Linked DNA regions of Homo sapiens: region 2 is reported to be linked to region 1. Evidence: microRNA targets listed by miRTarBase, many of them from high-throughput screens and not tested one by one. Region 1 holds a microRNA gene; the other region holds the end of a gene's coding sequence.
The links. Region 1 holds the annotated microRNA hsa-miR-340-3p (UCCGUCUCAGUUACUUUAUAGC, at 1,877-1,898, opposite strand). A microRNA usually pairs through its seed, bases 2 to 8, with sites in the 3' UTR of a target mRNA and lowers its output. Matches are read on the target gene's strand: a 7mer-m8 pairs with bases 2 to 8, a 7mer-A1 pairs with bases 2 to 7 and ends in A, and an 8mer does both.

Region 2: miRTarBase lists TOR1AIP2 as a target of hsa-miR-340-3p. The part of its 3' UTR that is shown has no 7-base or 8-base seed match.

Annotation. Positions count from the first base shown.
Region 1 is chr5:180,013,443-180,016,442 of GRCh38, forward strand. MIR340 (microRNA 340) reads right to left here and starts at 1,955; the gene lies at 1,861-1,955. The region is part of intron 2 of RNF130 (ring finger protein 130); the gene reads right to left.
Region 2 is chr1:179,843,329-179,846,328 of GRCh38, forward strand. It overlaps TOR1AIP2 (torsin 1A interacting protein 2), which reads right to left. Exons shown (of 7, transcript NM_001199260.2): 7 at 1-3,000. The coding sequence ends at 2,743. Among named protein-coding and RNA genes, the nearest start is that of LINC02818, 8.2 kb to the left of the region's middle.

The DNA.
Region 1 (3,000 bases):
ACTGAAATGTAGATGCAGCTGGGTATGCTGGCACCAAGTAGGAACATGTAATTTGTTGTGTGGTACTTAAGACTTAAACAGACATAAGGCATAGAACGACTGCAGTGTTAAGAACCATATTAACTTGTCTGACAACTACATTTTTAAAAAAAGATTATTAAACCAGCCAAATGTGACAACAGACAGCAACATAACATTATACAGCAAGAGAAGTGTATCAACATCATGGTAGATTTACACTGTAAAACCTTTTCTATTTTAAAATGATCTTCAGAAAGTCTTAATTCCTTAAGAAATGGAGTAAAGTGCTGTTTTTATAGCATAAATTGGTACTTCTTGCACTAATCTAGGAACATTCATGGAGTACCCACTGTCTGTAGAACTAGTGCCAGGAACAAAAACAAGTACAGGATACCAAGCTTTCTAATCTCACTGAGACAGGGGACACACAGCTGGTAACAGAGCTACAAAGTGCCAAATGGTGCCACCTTTTATTAGTGACATCTGAAACTAACTTGGGTCTTATGTCCAGACTTGAGTGGAGTTGAGGCTCCTTGCTAGTTTACCCCAGAACTCTTCTGGAAATCAAACGTTCCAGAGACAGGTCCAGGCTTCAACATTCTGGACCAGTTTGGCATCGAAATACCTCCAGCCTCTAACAGTTGTCCAGAGGTCTGCCCACAAGCACAGGCTATGCAAGTTAATTACGAGGACAGTCTTAAGTTGCCTTATAGTTACCTAGACCTTTCCCCTACATAATTTCCAGAAGTAGTAACAGTGAAGGAATTGAATACCTCTTCCTATGGACAGCAGGAAACTGCTATCCCTTTCCTCCTCCACAAAGGAAATAACTTCCCACTGTCTTTTAAGGAAACAGAGAAACTTCTATCAATCTATCAGCGATTGTCCTTTCATAAGCTGAAGCTGCCGGTGGCAACATGTAGCTTCTACATTTGCCTTCTCCAGAGAGCCCCTGAGAGAGACTAGGGGTCATTAGAAGGGAAATAAATATTTTATTTTGGGAAAGAGAAAATTATAACCACTTATTTGAATTTGAATAAGGTTTGTACATATCAATGTAAACCAACAAAACAATCAAGCAGAAGTCCCCAAAACTTGTCCTTTTCAATCCTTCTTCAATGAATAACACATTGAAATATTTGGTTTTACATGTTTCATTTACCATATTTAGCTAAAAGAACCATCTTTGTGTTACATGCAGTCACAGAAGACTACACGCAACTGAAAAGAAATTCAACAGGGCTGGGCGTGGTGGCTCATGCCTATAATCCCAGCACTTTGGGAAGCCAGGGCAGGTGGATTGCTTGAGCTCAGGAGTCCAAGACCAGCCTGGGCAACATGGTGAAACCCTGTCTCTCACAAAAACAGGAACATTAGCTAGGCATGGTGGCACATGTCTGTGGTCCCAGATACTCAGGAGGCTGAGGTGGGAGGATCACTGGAGTCCAGGAAGTTGAGGCTGCAGTGAGCTGAGATCACGCCACTGCACGCCAGCCTGGGTGACAGAGCAAGACCCTCAAAAAAAAGAAGAGAAATACAACAGTAAAAGGAGTTTTATGGAAAATGTAACCCAATGGAACATATACCTTTTTACTACCTTACTCAAAATTGTTACAGCCACTTTATTAGAACAGCAGTTTACCAGAATACCGATTAAAAATCTACAAAAAACTATAAAATTAAAGCAAGCAATAAACATCTAATTAATATCTAATTACCTTTCTGAAATAAGAGTTGTGATCAGTAAATTAGAGACAATCACAAAATAATGCTAAACCGCTTTAAATTTCCCTTTAGAAATCTCTTAAAATGTTGTTCAACGGGCCATGATCTGTGGTATAAGATACCAGGTATGGCTATAAAGTAACTGAGACGGATCCCACAAACGACATATGACAATCAGTCTCATTGCTTTATAATCACACCAGGTACAAACGGTTTTAGAAATCAGTTGAGGCTCCCTCTTGAAGACTCAAGCTGGAAAAGGAGTAGGGAAAGGAGTAGGGAAAGGAGTAGGGAAAGGAGTAGGAAAGGAGTAGGGAAAGGAGTAGGAAAGGAGTAGGGAAAGGAGTAGGAAAGGAGTAGGGGAAGGAGTAGGGAAGGAGTAGGGAAAGGAGTAGGGAAAGGAGTAGGGAAAGGAGTAGGGAAAGGAGTAGGGAAAGGAGTAGGGAAAGGAGTAGGGAAAGGAGTAGGAAAGGAGTAGGAAAGGAGTAGGGAAAGGAGTAGGAAAGGAGTAGGGAAAGGAGTAGGGAAAGGAGTAGGAAAGGAGTAGGAAAAGGAGTAGGAAAGGAGTAGGGAAAGGAGTAGGGAAAGGAAAGCTGAACAGGTAGCCAAGGAAACCAATCCATGTGATTCTATTCAAAGAACACTAAATAAGAACACCAACTAATTTCAACGGGAAAGCTGTTTGGGAAAAGAAGTGTGTAATTATTTCAACCATCCATTCAACAATATTTATTGAGCACATACTATGATCAGGCTCCTTTCACCTCTTAAAGAGAGTAGAAAATTACCTGCTCTTGATGCAAAAATCCACACGCCCTCAGGAGCAAAGGGGGAACCTTTTGGACTAGGAAGAGAAGCCGCTCGCGGTGGCGTCATTACACCAGCACAGAGAAGAGCCGGGCAGAGGAGCCCGACCCTGCCGATCGGGCAGGAGGACAGCAGAACGAAAGCCCGCCACCAACTTGCAAAGGACTGGAGTTTTAGGTCTTAAATCTTTTACAGAATCTGGCGAAAGTTATATAGGAGTCCCCTCCTAGGAGAAAGGGCCTTCTCCCCATACTCCACCCCTAAAGCCTGATAGGGCTCAAAGACCCTGACCTAAAGCTGCCTCAGACACTTGACTTTTAAGGATCTGAGGAGCTCTGGCCCAGTTTCACGCCAAAGGAAATGTAGGCTTCACAATAAAGGGCCGGTCAGAGGAGGCAGTGACTGAAAAGAGTGAAGAATAATTAGACTGTAACGCTGTAAATATCA
Region 2 (3,000 bases), not on the chromosome of region 1:
AACCTCGTCTCTATTAAAAATACAATAATTAGCTGGGCATTGTGGTGCATGCCTGTAATCCCAGCTACTTGGGAGGCTGAGGCACAAGAATCACTTGAACCCAGGAGGTGTAGGTTACAGTGAGATGAGATTGTGCCACTGCACTGCATTCCAGCCTGGGTGACAGAGCAAGACCTTCTCTCAAAAAAAAAAAAAAAAAAAAAAGAAGTTTGGTTGGGTGCATTGGGTCACATCTGTAATCCAAACACTTTGGGACGCTGAGGTGGGAGGATCACTTGAGGCCAGGAGTTCAAGACCAGCCTAGGCAACACAGTAAGACCCTGTCTCTATACAAAATAGTGTGGTAGAGTGGTGTGGTAGTCTGCACTTGTAGTCCCGGCTACTCAGGAGGCTAAGGTGGGAGGATTGCTTGAGCCCAGGAGTTTAAAGCTACAGTGAGCTATGATCAAGCCACAGCACTGCAGCCTGGGAGTCAGAGTGAGACTCCATCTCAAAAAAAAAAAAAAAAAAAAAAGACTTTTGAAATAGCAGACAGAAAACTGACAACACCCTCAATTGATTGCACTATACATGGAAGGGAAAATGTTTTTAAAAAGGCTAAATTAAAAATTATGACTTTAGAAATTTATTTTTCTAAATTATTTTGAAGAGAAATGATGAAAAACCATATTCAACTGAATGAAGAAACAAGAATATGCGACATACTGGTTCCTTGACAGATCTGAGGTAGCACAGGTCAGCAGGCCAATATAATAGTTATACAAGGCAACACTGGTTTTGTGGATGTAACGCTAGCATCTAAGATCTAAAAAGACAGAAAAAATGTGCATATGGGATACAGATTTTCCTTCAACTTCCTCTGCTTTTATACTGGATTGACAGTGATATCACATTCACCATGCTTTAACTTTTTGTTCAGGTCTCTTCCCAAATCTCTTGGAAGCTTCCTTCGAAGTCCCAAATGCAAATTCTTCCTTCAGGTATGCCCCTACACTCAATTGAGCAATTACTCAATTGTAATCTTTTTAGGTATCAGTAAAGATCCCTGTATCTTCTTAGTGTTTCCTAAAATCTTTCCATACTTTAATCAGACTTCTTAGCTATATACATATGATCTCATATAATGGAGAGGCCAAAACCCAGTTGAAATAATCCAGGATTATGGTAATAGTCTATATAATGGAACAGACCCTTTGTTAGGTCGAGATCATTTTACTAGAGTTCTGCTTTCAGAGCTCAAATGCTAATCAACTCTATCTCCATACAAACTGTTTTCAATCTTTCTTACAATCACAGAACATGGTCCGTCAGTACTGAACATCAAAACCTCTGAGAATCTACCCACCATTTCTGCTTCCTCTCACTAAGTATAACATCTCTTAGATTTCTCTAATTTTTAACCTAATGGTACTTCTATAACTAGTTGGTCAAGAAATGAGCTGCATTACATAATGTTCCATCACTGCATAGAAATAAACTGGTAAAGTTATGCCAAATGTTCATATAAAATTTACTATTAAATTGGTTATTCAAAAATAAATTTTTAAAATAAAACAAATAAATTGGTTATTAAAATCTGTTCTGCTGAAAGAGTCTACAAACTCTTACCCTAGACAAGTATAAAATTCCATGCAGAGGGGACAGAAATGACGATTAACAGAAATGAACAAAAGCATCAGAGACATGCTAGTAAATGCTAGCTTATACATTCTGCTGTTCATGTATAGATCTTTATCCTTCATAAATAATGTATCTATACAATAAACCTGTATTTCATCTTCCTACTCATAAGATTTAATACATTCATTTTTTAAACATATTTCCTATCTTCTAAGATGTTTTTTCACTTAATCAATGGTTTTCAAACTCGAATATCAGTGAAACTCTTTGTTCCAATGAAATCTCATAGAGAACCCCAACATATAAAACAGTTAAAAGCAGAACTGCTCTGATACAAAGGGGAAGGGTGCCAGTAGACACAGTTTGAAAATCAATGCTGTAAATTGTTCAAGAAAAGCTGAAGTAAAGATATAGCCAATTGGAATTTCTTCATTTCCAATGATTATAAACAATTTCCCCACTGGTTCTCATTTTTAAGAACATTTGAGTACAGCTGCTTATACCTCAGCTGAATGAAATAAAAGCACAGTGCCTTACATGTAGTATTTAGGTAGGTACTTAATGGTTTGAATTCTTATTTCTTTTATCATACTACTCAAAACTGCAAAATTAATATAAGATATAATCCCGTAACTTTAGATTATTAAAGTAAGGTTTGAAAATATTCAACATGTGATAGAAAAATTTTCTAAAGGTTATCATTGCTTCATAATTCTAATTGCTTTAGTCCAAGTCCAAACATTATCGAAAAGGTTCTTCAGAGTCTCACTCAAGAAAAAAAAAAAATCACTCTGTAGTTACTCTAAGAAGTAAGAGTATCTTCCTGTGCAATGTTGCTATATTTTAGAATTTAAAAAAAATTCTCATATATATCATCGATATTTCAAACCTGATTTGGTCCAAAGAAAAAAAGTCAGGTTAATTTTTAGCTTTGTCAAGGCTTAGATTAGAAAGATTTTACAAGGAATAAAAAATAAAAACTTGTTTCTAAAATAAGCTCATCTTTGTTTTTCAGGCTATTTCCTCAAGCTATTTTATCAACCTCCTTCCATATAAATGGAAGGTCTTTAAACAAACTTTTTCATAAACATATACCTTCTGTAACCAACTCTGTGCTTAGCTTTAGAAAAGGCACCCCTGTTCTTCTATGCTACTCACTGGCTGGACTGGCAGTACCAGGTGTGAAATTCGGCTCCACAGCCCACTCAATTTGTCTGAGTCCATGTGGTTGAAGGAGGTGGGAGTGTCAGAGTTGGTAAACTTGGCCCAGAGTAAGTCTCTCACTTTTTCTTCCGTTTCCCTTGGGCCTACACTTGCTTCTAATGTTTCCTCCTCTAGCAGAACAGTCAGGACCAGGGCCACATCTTTAAAGGCAGCATT